Linked DNA regions of Homo sapiens: region 1 is linked to region 2. Evidence: fine-mapped expression QTL. Tissue or cell type: aorta. Region 2 holds a variant in brackets; the other region holds the start of a gene. All regions are shown on one strand. Distances are from middle to middle.

Region 1 (8,104 bases), 300 kb after region 2:
ACCTCTTGGGCTCAAGCAATCTTCCTGCCTCAGCCTCCGAAGTAACTGGGACTACAGGTGTGCACCACCATGCCTGGCTAAATTTTTTTGTTTGGGTAGAGACAGGGTCTCACTGTGTTGTCCAGGCTGGTCTTGAACTCCTGAGCTCTATTGATCCTCCTGCCTCAGCTTCCCAAAGTGCTGGGATTACAGGCATGAGCCACTGGACCCAGCCCCCAAGGTTTTTACTGGGAGCTGATCATGAAGGCACCCTCTGCCTAACATGTTTCAAAACTCCAGACTCTGAGAAGGAGAACAGGTATTTAGCATAAGCCACATTGTTTGTACAGTTTAGGCACTGTGAGCCACTTTAAACTGGTGGGAACACTACCAAAAGCCAAGTTCCCTTACGCCAGGCAAGGGTCAACCTTGCAGTTGGGCCTCTCCAAAGACAGCAGCCTCAGGTCTGCTATGTTAAGTTTTTTCTGTACAGTCTCATAAGCAAATGGGTTTTTTATTTTTTCCAGGAAGACATGGTTGGTCATACCTCTGAAAATCAATGTAATTCATATTAGCAGAATAAAGGAGAAAAATCATATAGTCCTCTCAACGGATTAAGAGAACACACTTAATAAAATATATCATAAGCCTTTTAGCAAACTAGGATAATAAGGGACTTTCTTAATCTGATAAAGAGTATCTACAAAAAAAATCTATAGCCACCATATTAATGGTGAGATATTGAACGCTTCCCCTGAGGTTAGGAACAAGACAAGACTATCCATCATCACCACTTATAGTCAACATTACACTGCCAGTCCTGGCCAGTGCAATAAGGCAAGAAAAAGAAATTGAAGGTATAGAGATTGAGAAGGAAGTAAAAATGTCTTTATTTACTGATGATGTGATCATGTACATAACAAGCCTCCTAGAAATAATCAATTTAGCAAGGGCACTGGCTGTTGGGACAGTCTTGCATGGGTCCTAAGCATCCCTGCATGTTCTTACTATGTCAAACCAGAAAGTCTGTCTCCTGATACTGAGCACAGAAGCAATTAAGTAGACCAAAGTGACTATAGTGTGATGATAGTATAATTTCTCCCTCCCCAGTGGAAAGGGCCTGGCTTTATTTGCTGCTTGCTAAAAAGGGTACTGAGCCTTTGGCTCTGGGCTCCACCAAGCTGTGGCATAACTCCTTGAGTGCAGCACCATCTGGGGTCATTGTGTCACTCATAGGACTTGGGAGCAGGGGGCCCCCAGGTTGCCATGCTGATGTTCCTGCTGTTTGCCATAAGTAATTTGGCCTCACTGTCAGCTTTTGGCATCTATGAAGTTGTGGCATACTCTGACATAGATTAGCCAACTTTTTCTTAAAGGGTCAGATGGTATTTAAGGCTGTGGGCCATGTGGTCTCTGTTGCAACTACTTAACATTGCCATAATAGCATGAAAGCTGCAATATATAATAACATGTAAGTAAGTGACCATGATGACGTTCTCCAAAGAACTTTTATTTACAAAAACAAGCAGCTGGCCCACTTTCTTTGTTTTTCTTTTGAGACATAGTTTCACTCTTGTTGCCCAGGCTGGAGTGCAATGGCTTGGTCTCAGCTCACTGCAACCTCCGCCTCCCAGGTTCAAGCGATTCTTATGCCTCAGCCCCCCAAGTAGCTGGGATTAGAGGCATGTGCCATCATGCCCGGCTAATTTTGTATTTTTAGTAGAGATGGGGTTTCACCATGTTGGTCAGGCTGGTCTTGAATTCCTGACCTCAAGTGATCCACCCGCCTCAGCCTCCCAAAGTGCTGGGATTACAGGTGTGAGCCACCGCGCCAGGTGCAGCTGGCCCACTTTCTTTCCATATCAGGCTCAGAGCAGGAACTTTTCTAATGTCTCTTGTCTTGCAGGCAGCGAAGATGGGGAAGCAGGATCTGGATTCCTTTCCACCTTAACCTCTGTGCTCTGCGCTTTCCTACTTACCCTAAAGGGCTTCCTTGCCCTCCAGCTTGCAGTTAAGTTGTGTCAGCGGGAGACATAAGCAGAGATCAGAGATGGGAGAAGGGAAATGGAGGTCCCTGCTATATTTATCCACTAGCCTCCTAGAGTGTGAGGGTTCCTAGTGGGAGGCCTTCTATGCACATATTACTCTCCAGCTTCAGGGAATTGTTTCAGGCCCTTCCCTTTTAAGCCTAGAAGTAACAATTACCGCCCCACCACATCCCAATTAGCCAGGGGTACAGCACTTTGCTTAAAGCTTAGTCACTCTTGGCCGGGGGCATTAATCACACCTGTAATCCCAGCACTTTGGGAGGCGGGGGGGGGGGGGGGGGGGGGGGGGGGGGGCGGGTCACCTGAGGTCAGGAGTTCCAGACCAGCCTGGCCAACATGGTGAAACCCCGTCTCTACTAAAAATGCAAAAATATTTAGCCGGGTGTGGTGGGGGGCACCTGTAATCCCCGCTACTTGGGAGGCTGAGACTGGAGAATCGCTTGAACCCAGGAGGCGGAGGTTGCAGTGACCAGAGATAGCGCCATTGCACTCCAGCCTGGGTTACAAGAGCAAAACTCCGTCTCAAAAATAAAATGAAATAAATAAAATAAAGCTTAGTCACCTTCCTCAGGCTACCTGGTTGGAGCGTGCCATCTGTTTCCTGCTTTACCCTGATTGACAACGGGCTAACAGCCAAGTCAAGTCAACCTGAGTCCTCTCAAAACCCTTCTTTTTGCACTCCCCTGCCTGCAGCAACACAGTTTTCTGTTTTTTTTTTTTTTTGAGACAGAGTCTCACTGTCGCCCAGGCTGGAGTGCGGTGGCGCGATCTCAGCTCACTGCAACCTCCGCCTCCCGGGTTCGAGCGATTCTCCTACCTCAGCCTCCCAAGTAGCTGTAACTACTGGCGCGCGCCAGTACGCCCGGCTAATTTTTGTATTTTTAGTAGAGACGGGGTTTCGCCATGTTGGCCAGGCTGATTTCGAACTCCTGACCTCAGGTGATCCATCACCTCGGCCTCCCAAAGTGCTGGGATTACAGGCGTGAGCCACTAAGCCCGGCCAGCAACACGCTTTTACCGCTGCAAATCCGGATCAGGCAGGCTTTGAAGCCCAGCTCACAGGCCGTCTCTTGGAAACTAACTTAGATTTCCACCTGGGAGCACTTTGTCCTCTCAGCTCCCACTGCACCACTTTATGGATCGCGTGGTGACTCGTTTCATTTTATTTATGTGTGTTCCTGGAAAGGACGCTCTATTTCCTTCGTGTCTCTACCTGGTAGGTAAATCGGCCGCAGAAAAGACCAATGCTAACTCCACCCTGCATTTGCAGAGATCCGTCGCTCACACCTTTTCTTGTCTTCCGTTGAAAAAAGAGAATCGTGGGAGTAGGACCTATTTGCCAATCTCCTGGTAACACTATCACAACTGGCCACTTCCGCCCAACGCCCGGTAGTCTGAGAGCCTCCAAGGTCCTCCCCCGCACCCCTGAGGTCCTGCAGACGACGGCGTCGTGGGTGGTCACCGTTATCCCTTAGGTCTGGAGAGGGGACATCCGAGCGAGGGCCACTTGCGGCCAGGCCCGAGCTCGTCCAGCTCCGGGTGACCACAGAGTGCCGCGGGCGGGCAGAGGGGCCGGAAACCCAGGCCGCTTCGTCCCTGTTTCCGGCAGCGCCGCGCTGCTCCGGGAGCCGCTGTGGCAGCGTATGCTGCCACGGGGACTGAAGATGGCGCCGCGAGGTGAGATTCCGGAGGTGTGTGAGTCGCTGGTCCCTTTCCCTTCGGTCGCTCCCTCCCACCTCTGTCCCAGAGCTTGACCTAAACCCTCCATTCTCTAGCGTTAGGGACGTCGCGCCTCCCTGGTCCAAAGCCGGCTTCCGCGGTCCCGCCCACCCTGGGTGCCTGAAGGTCTCAAGGTGCACAGCTCAAATAAACGCAGATCCTTGGCTGGGCCACTTCTAGGCTGGCTCAGGTGCGAATCTGTTGGTCTCTGCGCCCCAACTTCCCCTCCCAAATAGTGACAGAGTGAGATCTTTGAGATGTCTGTCAGCTGCGAGTTACCTCTTGACTTTTATTCCTGAAGCCGAAGAGTCGAGTTTCACGGTGATTCCTAGGAAAGGAGGGAAGCCCCCTCCACTCCCACCCCCGTACCCTCGCCCCCTCATTATCAGCAACCAGAAGTGCCCCTGAGTGGCCGGTCCCATTAGTTGCAGCGTCTAGTTTCCCCAAAGTTAGACACCAACCCATACGAGCAGAGAGGGAGCTGCCTTCCGGCCCATCCCACTTCTCTGTGCTCCTTTTTCAGGTAAACGGTTGTCCTCCACCCCGCTGGAAATCCTGTTCTTTCTGAACGGGTGGTATAATGCTACCTATTTCCTGCTGGAACTTTTCATATTTCTGTATAAAGGTAAGGAAGGCTTGGGGCTTGACGACAGCATCCCTTCCCCACTTCAGCTCAGAGCCAATTCCTACCAAGAACCTTCTTATTTTCCGTTCTTTTCTGCCCCCTGCAGTTCTTTGTCGCTGCAAGGCAGGCCTCCTCATCAGATGGCTTCTTTGAGTATGATTCCATAGGCAGCCCCTCAGCAAGAATTTCTTGAGTTTGAGAAATGTGGGCTTCTCCATTCTGACTCTGCCCACATCACTGCTCTTTGCTGAGCTCCACTGTAAGCCCACTGGTGACCCTTAGAAACTATTCAGTGGCCTGTGTACCCATGTACATCCAATCATTTTGGAGAGTGGAGTCCCCAGAGACTTTTGGAGTTAGGAGTAAAACACCATAATAATGAGCCTGAGTCGCATTGTGAGTTTATGTATCCTGCTGCTGTAATAATGCCCACATCTCACTAACTAGTTCATGGAAAGCTGAGACTGATGTCCTCTTTTTTCCCAAGTGTGTGGCAGTTCTTGTGGGTGCTGTTATATGCTGTTTGCAAACTCTGGCTTTTGTATTGGCAGGTGTCCTGCTACCATATCCAACAGCTAACCTAGTACTGGATGTGGTGATGCTCCTCCTTTATCTTGGAATTGAAGTAATTCGCCTGTTTTTTGGTAAGTGTTGTCCAGAGAATATTTCCACTCCTTATGAGACAAGCTGGTATCTGTAACTTGATTAACAAGAAAAGTACATAACCTAGGTTGACTATCATAGACTGGATCTGTATATCCTATTACTCCGTCTCTGAAGTTTCAAGTTGCTGCTTCATACATTGGGTCAAGATTTACCTGTTTGTTGCTCTGTAAGGCTAGAGATGGGCAATAGAATGGGATATTAGATGATTCCTTCCCAGCTGCCTAACTGCAAGAAGAGTGCTTGGTTCTTCTCACTAGTATTCTTAGGGGAATAGGTTCAGTTGTAACTCCACGTCAGGGCAGGCAGTGTATCCTGTACAGATCAGTACTAAGATCCCTAACAATTCTCTGAATAAGGATCTCTGTAGGAGTTTTTTGTTTTTTTTTTTTGAGATGGAGTCTCACTCTGTCCCCAGGCTGGAGTGCAATGGCACGATCTCGGATCACTGCAATCTCTGCCTCCCGGGATCAAGCGATTCTCCTGCCTCAGCCTCCTGAGTAGCTGGGATTACAGGCGTGCACCACTGCTCCCAGCTAATTTTTGTATTTTTAATAGAGACGGGGTTTCACCATGTTGGCCAGGATGGTCTCGATCTCTTGACCTTGTGATCTGCCTGTGTCGGCCTCCCAAGGTGGTGGGATTACAAATGTGGGCCACTGCACCTGGTTGGATTTTTTTTTTTTTTTGAGATGGAGTCTCACTCTGTCACCTGGGCTGGAGTGCAGTGGCACCATCTCGGCTCACTGCAGCCTCCGCCTCCCGGGTTCAAGCAATTCTCCTGCCTCAGCCTCCTGAGTAGCTGGGACTGCAGGCGCCTGCCACCATGCCCGGCAAGTTTTTATATTTTTAGTAGAGATAGAGTTTCACCATGTTGGCTAGGATGGTCTCGATCTCCTGACCTCATGATCCACCCGCCTTGGCCTCCCAAAGTGCTGGGATTATAGGTGTGAGCCATCACACCTGGCCAGATTTTGTTTTTTAAACATTTATTTATTTGAGACAGGGTCTCATTCTGTCACCTAGGCTGTAGTACAGTGGTACGATCATAGCTCACAGCAGCCTTGAAGCCCTGGGCTCAAGCAGTCCTCCAACTTCAGCCTCCTGAGTAGCTGGGACCACAGGTGTGCGACATCATACCTGGCTAATTTTGTGTTTTTTGTAGAGACAGTGTCTTGCCTTGTTGCCCAGGCTGGTCTGAAGCTCCTGGCCTCAAGCAATCTTCCTGCCTTGGCCTCCCCAAGGTGCTGGGATTACAGGCGTGAGCCAACATGCCTGGCCTGTAGGACAAGTTTTATAACCCCAGAAATACAGAGCAAAACCCTTATTTGTTAGAATATGTCATCCCTGAAATCAACGTTAAAGCACAAACTTAGGAACAAAATTACTTGCAACATATAAGAAAGGATAAAAGAAGGCTCACATAAATCACTAAGGAAAAAACAAAATAACTTTAAAAATTGGCTGGGCGCAGTGGCTCACGTCTGTAATCCCAGCACTTTGGGAGGCCGAGGTGGGTGGATCATTTGAGGTGAAGAGTTTGAGACCAGCTTGGCCAACATGGTGGCCGTCTCTACTAAAAATACAAAAATTAGCTGGGTGTGGTGGCGCGCACCTGTAATCCCAGCTACTTGGGAGGCTGAGGCAGTAGAATCGCTTGAACCCAGGAGGCAGAGGTTGCAGTGAGCCAAGATCGCCCACTGCACTCTAGCCTGGGCGACAAAGTGAGACTCAAAAAAAAAAAAAAATTGGTAAGGGACATTAATGGCAGTTCATGTAAAAATAATTACAGAGAACCAGTAAAACTTGACAAGATGCTCAAACTCGCTAATAAAAATCAAATTGAAACAAAGTAACATTTTTTACCCATCAGACTGGCAAAGAAAGATTTATAACACCCAGTATTAGGGTGTGGGGAACAGGTTGTTATACACTTTTGTGGTAATTTAATTTAGTACAACTCTTGGGTAGTAGTTATTACTGTGTAATGTTTTACTGTTAGCCCCAACAATTTCACTTCTAAAACTAGATTAAAAAAAAATTCCACAGATATGCGAAGATAGCTATATGAGAATGTTTATTGCCAAAAATTTGGTAACATCAAAACACTGTAAACAAACTAAACATCTGTCCATACGGGATTGTTAAATCAGTTACGGCACTGATTCAACGGACTTGTATATAACCATTAAAAAAGAACAGTTGCTGGGCATGGTGGCTCACGCCTGTAATCCCAGCACTTTGGGAGGCTGGGGCAGGCAGATCACGAGTTCAGGAGATCGAGACCATCCTGGCCCACATGATGAAACCCCATCTCTACTAAAAATACAAAAATTAGCTGGGTGTGGTGGCACGTGCCTGTAATCCCAGCTACTCGGGAGGGTGAGGCAGGAGAATCACTTGAGCCCGGGAGGCGGAAGTTGCAGTGAGCCGAGATTGCACCACTGCACTCTAGCCTGGCGAGAGAGCTAGACTCTGTCTCAAAAAATTAAAAAAAATTAAAAAGAACAGTTAAGGCCAGGTGCAGTGGCTCACGCCTGTAATCTTAGCACTGTGGGAGGCCGAGGCGAACGGATTGCCTGAGGTCAGGAGTTCGTGACCAGCCTGGCTAACATGGTGAAATCCTGTCTCTACTAAAAAATACGAAAATCAGCTGGGCATGGTGGCGGGCACCTGTAATCCCAGCTACTTGGGAGGCTGAGGCAGGATAATCGCTTGTACCTGGGAGGTGGAGGTTGAAGTGAGCCGAGATCGCTCCATTGCACTCCAGCCTGGGTGACAAGAAACTCCGTCTCAATAAAAAAAAAAAAAAATTAGCTGGGCATAGTGACGTGTACCTATAGTGGGAAGATCCCTTCAGCCCAGGGGTTCGAGGCTGCAGTGAGCTATGATGATGCAATTGCACTCCAGCCTGGGTGACAGAATTAAACACTATCAAAAAAAAAAAAAAATTAAGGTAGCTATGTGTGTGGAAAAATGTTTGTGGGGGAAAAATAAGTTGCAAAACAGGATGTAGGGTATGCTTCTATTTTTATAATAATAAATAGTAATATGTGAATATATACGTATA
Region 2 (8,104 bases):
ATCATTGACATGATCATCACTATCATCATCACCACATATAACACCAATAAGTATTTGTTTCCAGATCATCCCACAGGGTCAACCCAACATGGCCCTGGCCTCAGAAGAGCTTACAGAATTAGGAACATATAACCCATGCTGAAGTGTTGGGGCTTGCTGGGACACATATCGAGGTGAGCGCTCCACATCGGTGTGGATGGGGTAGAAGTTGTTGAGCTATGCCCTCCCACCCTCCACACCAGACCAGAACCGACTCTCTCCAGATTGCCTTGGGGACCTGCCTCTTGCCACAGGCCAAGGCTGACTGCACCTGGACCCATCCCCTCATCTCTCAGAACTTCAGTCTCCTCATCTCTGAAACAAGGCTGGTGACCTCAGCTCCTCCAAACCTCCCAGCAATGGGCAAAGGGAAGGACCCGCCATCAAAGACAAACAGAAGTCACTCGAGGAATGTCCTGGACATTCAGTAAATGATCACAAACATGTCTCACTTTTATATCAAATTTGTCCCCCAAGGTGGAGTCCTGGACACTCACTAATGATCACAAACATGTCTTATTCTTATATCAAACCTGTCCCTCGAGGTGGACCTGGACCTCTTCCACACTGACAGTCACAGGGCACCTAGAGTGCCCATCATGGAACAGAAAAATCCTGATCCCTAAAGTAGTTATAAACCTACTCAAGTGTGTCCCTCTTTAAGTAAACTCAGCCAATCAGTATTCAGATCTACTAGAAGTAAGTTGGGATGGAGGTAACTAATTCAATTTTTACAGTGTGCTTTTAGTATTTAAAATGGTCATAATCCTTGATTCAAATAATTCTAATTAAAGGAAATAAGGATATGATTGTGCAAAAATATTTATCACAGTTATTTTTAATAGCAAAAAAAAAAAAATGAGGAGCTGGGTAAAGTGGCTCACGCCTGTAATCCCAGCACTTTGCGGGGCTGAGGCAGGAGGATCGCTTGAGCCTAGGAGTTTGAGACCAGCCTGGGCAACACAGCGAGACCCTATCTCTACAAAAAATTTGTTTTTAAAAATTAACCAAGCGTGGTAGCTCATGCCTGTAGTCCCAGCTAAGGCCGAGGAAGGAGGGTCACTTGAGCCCAGGAAGTCAAAGTAGCAGTGAGCTGTGATCGCACCACTGCACTCCAGCCTGGGCAACAGACTGAGATACTGTCTCAAAAAAAAAACAAAAAAAAAAAGAGTAAACAACACAAATGTCCAATAATAGGGATTGGTTAAGTAAAAATCAGAACTTTTATTAGCTATTGTAGACCCATTTTTAAAAACCATGTTATATAAGTCTATGACATGGCACGACACTCAAGATATACTTTAAGAAAAAAAGCAGATACAAAGATATCTCTTTATATATATCTACATATAGATATCTGTGTGTATATATCTTAAGTATATTTATAAAAGATATATAATTTATATAAAATATATATACCTCGTACATATAAACATGTATATCACAAATACATGATACTAATTTTGAAACAGTAGATTATCGTAATTATAAATTGAAAAGAATAAAATATATAACATATTAACTGTGGTCATAATGAATGGTAGGATTGTGAGTGGTTTTATTTTTTCTTTATATTCTATAGTTTTGCTAATTTTTCACAAAAGCATGCATTATTTTTATTATTAAAAAATCACGTTATAAAAATGTTATATGTTTTACATAATTATACAAACAAATACCAGGACTTTTTTCTTTAAAAGATTTTCTGCAGACCCCTTTTAAAATAAAATCCTTACCCAACCTCATGCTACCATCTTGATCAAATCTCACCCCCACAATTAATTTCTGTAAATGTAGAAACTATTCAACTCATTGATATTTTTATTTTATGAAAATAAGACTGCAATATATAAATTGTTCTGAAATTTAATGTTTTCACTGAGCAAAAATATCATGGACATTTCTCTGTGTCAGGATACGGGGATCTATGAGCCCTTTCTTGATGGCTATATTCCCAACTATTCCAGAGTGTAGCTGGTTTGGAACTTATTTGCCCTTTGCCCTATCTTTCCCGTGTTTTATTATCCGTTGGTGACTTCAGCACCCCTGTGCATACTGCCTTGCACCCTGGTGAGTATAGGAGGCTTCTCTAAAGGTAATAGTGTATACGAGATTTTTTTTTAATGTGGCTTTTGCCATTTTATCCCTTAAAAATGGCTGTATCAATTTTCCAGCTTCTGGTAACTGATATTCTTTAAATGAGACTCCAAGCTTCAACTGACAGATTGAGGAATCTGGTGGACCATCTGGTGCAGCGCCTTTATTTCACAGATAAACTGAGACCCGGGGGGAGAGACTCCACCCTAGGCACGGAGCCAGTGAGGGGCTGAGCCAGGATGCTGCCCACAGCGTCCCACTTCTGGACCCATCTAGAAGCCACTACGCTAGCAGGACTCAGAAGTCATTGTCCTCATGCTTCCCTCAGCCTGGAAAATTGATCCCACCACCAAGCTGGAAAACCACTCATCCTTTGGGTCTTCATCTAGATGTCACCCCCTCCAGGAAGCCTTCCCTGATTTTCCCAGAGGCTGGATTGGACACGCGTCCCCCTCTGTGCTCCCTCAGGCCTGGCCTTTCCATGCTGTGTCCCAGTTGCCTGTCAGGTAGCCTCCCCACTGGGCTGGAAGCTCAGGGCGGTGGTGGGGGGTGCGGGGAGCAGGGTGTGCTTGTCAGTCTGTTTCATGTGTCCCTGCTGAAAGCTTCTCTGTCAATCATTCATTTGTTCAAGAAATAGCTTTGTGCCGGGTGCTAGGTGCGGGGGAGAGAAGGCAGGAGCGCTCCTGACCAGTGTCAGGTCTTCAGGAACGCTAAGCACTGCTCTAAGAAGCTGAGAGCCACGCTGAAGCTCTGCGTGCTGACCGCCACGTGAGCCTTTTCCACAAGTGCACCCGGCCAGCCTCCCAACATCCCTTCAAGGCAGGCTGTGTTCCACCCGTTTTACAGATGGGATCTGAGGCTCCAAGGGCCAAGGCTGCCACACCGAGGACACACAGTTGGGTCAGCCGGCCTCCTAGGCCCCCAAGATCTCTACTGTGACACAGCGAAACCCCTAAATGGCCACGAGAAGCACCAGCCTGAGATGAGAGAGAGGCTGCACCAGGGCAAGGGGTGCCTGTGGAAGAGGAGGCCTGG[C/A]GGTCCAGTCCAAAGCTCACTGTTGGTTATCTGTGCACCTTGGAGAATTCACATAACCTCTCTGATCCTCAATTATTTCACATGAACAACAGCCTTCATTAACACCTGTCGTACACTACTAGGAGGCCTTATTTTCTCAACCAAAGCCTATGCCTTATGGTCGAACAAGTCTAATCTTACAGTAGCAGCGGAAGAGTGAATATGAATGCTGAGTCCTCAGGGCCTCAGGCTGCGGGATGTGTGACTGGCACCCCGGGCTGTGGGCAGGCCTACAGCAGGCCTGGGTTGGGGGGCAGGTAGCAATGGAAAGGGGCTCCAGGAACACAGCCCCAGTGAGGGGAACTTGAGGAGGGCCCAGCAGAGGCGGGGGCGAATGCAGCCTGAGCCAACCAGCCCGCTCACGCCAGGGTACCACTGATCACAGACCTTCCAGAAGCCACAGGAGGCTGCCTAGTGTTGTCCGTGAGGGGCTAGGAAAGTAGGGGGTCAGTGGGGGAGCCTTATCTGTCCCTCCAGGCAAGACGGCCTCCTCCCCAGCTGCTCGACTCGCACCTGGACTTGGGGAAAGTACACACACTGAGACACCTTCCCAAGCCAGCGGGACCCTGTTCAGGCCACTTGGAATCCTCAGTCTTCTGCCCCTCCCCAAAGCCCTGACACTCACTCAACACTCAGCTCCCTCTCACACTAGCGAAAGAGGTAAACCTCCAGGCCCCACACAGAGAAATCCCCCACCTCCGACTGGACTCGGCACGCCAGTCAAACACTTTCATGCTGGGTTCCTAGGACAAGAGAGCTGGGCCTCGGGACCATCCAATCTCTGCATTTTACATATGAGCCAACCTCGGCCCAGAGCATGACAGGGACTTGACTGCAAAGGTGCCAAAGGTGAGACTCGAATGCAGGTGCCACCAGGCCAGCGCGTCTCCACCACACTGCACGCCACATGCATGTCCAGACCTGGATCCTAGATCCTCCTTCTCCCCCTCCCCACCCCCCACCAACAGCCAAACTGGGTGGGAACAAAGCTGGGGGAGGAGAGGCACTTCCTGAGCTGGCGGGGAGGGGAGTGTTGCGAAGTCAGCTCCCTGGGTGCCCCCACCCCCACAGCCAAACAGAGGTTTCCAAGGATCCAGGTCACTGAGTCATCCACACACACTTGTAGGCCTCTTCTGCCCTTCTCATCTGGCCACCAGGCCATCCATTATCTTTGGGAATCATTCCATAGATTTCTTCCTTCATTCATTCAACAAACCCTGAGGTCCTACTATGCACCAGTCACATTCCTCAGCCTCCTTCACCTCCTCCCTCCCACCCTCAGCTCCTCCCCTTTCCCCAGATCCTAGTGCCCCTTTGCCCCAGTGAAGAGGGCACACCTGGGGGCACTGAGGAGTCACCGAGTCCAGAGGGGTGACAGACACAGGCACACCCCACCCCAGATTACCTGGTGTGGCCCACGGCAGCACCGGCAGGCACCTCTCCGGTAGAGGTTGAGGAGGTTCTGACACCCGGCCCTGGGGGCTCAGCAACCCCTTCCCCCACCTTCAGCCTCTACTGGGCCTCGCTGCCTGGAAAACCCAGCCTGGGCTCAGCTGACTTCCTCTTGTGTCATGGAAAGTGCAGTGATGGGGACAGGAAACTCCCGCCAGGGATCTGAGGTCTGAGTGGGGACAGGGGCCCAGAGGTTTCTGGACCTGGAGGCCCGGAGGGGTGAAAGGGGCAGGGGTAACTTATGGGGGTGGGCAGCAGGGAGGGAGCCTATAGGGCAGTGTTCTCAGAGGGCAGCGACCCCCTCCACTAGGGTCGAGGCAGTGCCAAGCCCTGGGGGCCTGGAAGACAGCAACCCGAGGCCCTGAGCTACTTTCAGTTTTCCAAAACCAAACTAACAAACAAAAAGAGTAGAAGTTGTACTGTGATGAAGACTCTGAGATCAAAGCAAAGCCCAAATGTTTGGTTTGTTTTCTTTTCTTTGGGTAAGGAGGTGGGGAGTGGTGGCAAGGGTGGCAGAGTGAGGAAAACGTGGGATCATACTTCAGCGTTGACCTCCTGGGGCCGAATACTTTACCTTCTGAGCCTCAGTTTCCTCATCTGTGAAATGGAAAGCTGTGCCCACTTCCATGATAATTGGGAAGACTGAAGGAGCTGACGCCTCTGGCTAGAGGAAGGTGCTTAGTAAAACTTTCCTCGCTCTTTTGGGCTGCAATTATGTACACTGAGTGTGGGAACAGGGGCTGTGAAGGGCTGCTTACTGCACACAGCTGTGTGACCCACGAACAGCACTCATCAAGAAAAAACATCCCAGCAGAGTCTTTGGTGCTAAGAAGGGTGGAGCCATGTCTGTCTCTTTCGTCTTCACATCCCTGGGCTTAGCATGGGACAAATATTGATAAATGAATGAGTGAATGAATGAATGAATGAAAGAGGCTGGGATTTCCAGAGTCAAGGGACCAGGAAGGATGGATGTGAGGGCAAGGGGCAGGGGGCAGGGAACTGGGCCAGGCCTGGCCGGGAGGGGCCGGGTGAGGTTTCCCCATCCCAGGCTGAGGGCACCTCTGGCGGGAGGAAAAGGCACCTCTGAAGGCTGGATGAGGGATGGGTGTGGCCCCAATCACAGCTACCTTAGGAGTTCTCTTTCCTTGATCCTGGGGTGGGGGTCAAAGCTTCCCTCTGCCAAAGAGGTTCAAGCATGCAGCACCCTCCAGCCCTGAGTGAGCAGAAACCGGGGAGTGTCTAAGTGGGTCTAAGGGAGGAGACCACCCCTCCTATTGTCTTATGCCCGATTTCTGCCTCCAAAGAAAGAAGAAGTAAAAACTAAAAGGCAGAAATGAAATCCACAAGCAGACAGCTCGGCGCCACACCCTGGGCCTGGTAGTTAAAGATCGACCCCTGACCTAATCGGTTATGTCATCTATAGATTACAGACATTGTATAGAAAAGCACTGTGAAAATCCCTGTCCTGTTCTGTTCTAATTACCGGTGCATGCAGCCCCCAGTCACGTACCCCCTGCTTGCTCATTCGATCACGACCCTTTCAAGCGGACCCCCTTAGAGTTGTAAGCCCTTAAAAGGGACAGGAATTGCTCACTCAGGGAGCTCGGCTCTTGAGACAGGAGTCTTGCTGATGCTCCCGGCTGAATAAACCCCTTCCTTCTTTAACTTGGTGTCTGAGGGGTTTTGTCTGTGGCTTGTCCTGCTACATTTCTTGGTTCCCTGACCAGGAAGCAAAGTGATTAACGGACAGTTGAGGCAGCCCCTTAGGCAGCTTAGGCCTGCCTTGTGGAGCATCCCCGCGGGGAACTCTGGCCAGCTTGAGCGACACGGATCCTCAGAGCGCTCCCAGGTAGGCAATTGCCCCAGTGGAATGCCTCGTCAGAGCAGTGCATGGCAGGCCCCTGTGGAGGATCAACGCAGTGGCTGAACACAGGGAAGGAACTGGCACTTGGAGTCCGGACAACTGAAACTTGGTAAGACTAGTCCTTGGAACTTGCCCACTCCATTTGAGTGGAAGCATGGCCCAATCACCCATGGCATGCCTTTATCAGCACTTTGGTTTTGGTTTTGGTTTTGACTTGGTTTGAATCGCTTGACAGGACTGGTCTTGGGAACTTGCCTACTCCATTTGAGTAGAAGCGTGTCCTGATCACCCACAGTGTGCCTGTACCAGCACTTTGGTTTTTGTTTTTGACTTGTCTTGGATTGCTTGATACTTTGGTTTTGGTTTTGACCTGGCTTGGATTTCTTGATACTCTGATTTTGGTTTTGATTCTGGCTTGGCGTAAACTGTAAAAGTGTGTGTGTGCCCTTTTTACCCGTTCTTTGTTTTGTGGTGTGAGCATGGTGTTTTGTCTCGAGGAAACATGGGTCAGACACAAAGTAAGCCTACCCCACTAGGAACTATGTTGAAAAATTTCAAAAAGGGATTTAAGGGAGACTCTGGAGTCACTATGACACCAGGAAAACTTAGAGCTTTGTGTGAGATAGACTGGCCAGCATTAGAGGTGGGTTGGCCATCGGAAGGAAGCCTGGACAGGTCCCTTGTCTCGAAGGTATGGCACAGGGTAACCTGTAAGCCAGGGCACCCAGATCAGTTCTCACATATAGATTCTTGGTTACAGCTAGTTTTGGACCCCCCGCAGTGGTTAAGAGGACAGGCAGCAGCAGTACTAGTAGCAAAGGGACAGTTAGTTAAGGAAGGTTCTCGATCCCACCCGCCGAGGGAAGTCAGCACCAAAAGTCCTGTCCAACCCAACACCAGAAGAGTCACAGCAGGAATTGGTACCAGCAGTATCCCCTCCTTATCAAGAGGAAGGGCTCCCCACTCCTGAGCCCACAGCACCTACAACTCCACCAGATAACCACACCCCAGACCACCCAGAGTAGACAAAAGAGGAAGTGAAGCCACGGGAGAAACTCCTCCCTTGAAAGCTCGCTTACAGCCCAAGACTGGAATCCAAATGCCCCTGAGAGAGCAGTGATATACTGGGGTAGATGAGGACGGACACATGGTGGAAAGGCGTGCCTTTGTGTATCAACCTTTTACCTCTGCTGACCTCCTCAATTGGAAAAATAATACTCCATCTTACACTGAAAAGCCTCAAGCTTTAATTGACTTGCTCCAAACTATTATACAGACTCATAATCCTACTTGGGCTGACTGCCACCAGCTGCTCATGTACCTCTTTAATACAGGTGAAAGGTGAAGGGTGCTCCAGGCGGCAACTAAGTGGCTAGAGAAGCACGTCCCAGCCAATTACCAAAACCCCCAAGAATATATAAGAATTCAGCTGCCAGGAACAGACCCCCAATAGGACCTGAACGAGGGACCAGACATGGAGAGGCTAAGACGGTACCGTGAGGCATTAATAGAAGGTCTAAGGAAAGGGGCTCAAAAGGCTACAAATGTAAATAAGGTCTCTGAGGTCATCCAAGGAAA

The links. PIP is the estimated chance that this variant, and not a neighbour inherited with it, causes the effect.
Region 1: it holds the start of TMEM216, and the variant in region 2 is fine-mapped to the expression of TMEM216 in aorta (GTEx, PIP above 0.99).

What each region holds. Positions count from the first base shown.
Region 1 is chr11:61,388,962-61,397,065 of GRCh38, forward strand. It overlaps TMEM216 (transmembrane protein 216), which reads left to right and starts at 3,626. Exons shown (of 5, transcript NM_001173990.3): 1 at 3,626-3,704; 2 at 4,270-4,371; 3 at 4,923-5,015. The coding sequence starts at 3,671. RefSeq lists an enhancer at 3,391-4,352.
Region 2 is chr11:61,087,682-61,095,785 of GRCh38, forward strand. It overlaps LOC105369325 (a long non-coding RNA gene), which reads right to left and starts at 4,677. Exons shown (of 2, transcript NR_188502.1): 1 at 4,616-4,677. It also overlaps a transcript of CD5 not described here. RefSeq lists enhancers at 3,950-3,999, 4,278-5,240. The variant C/A (reference allele first, on the strand shown) is at 3,172.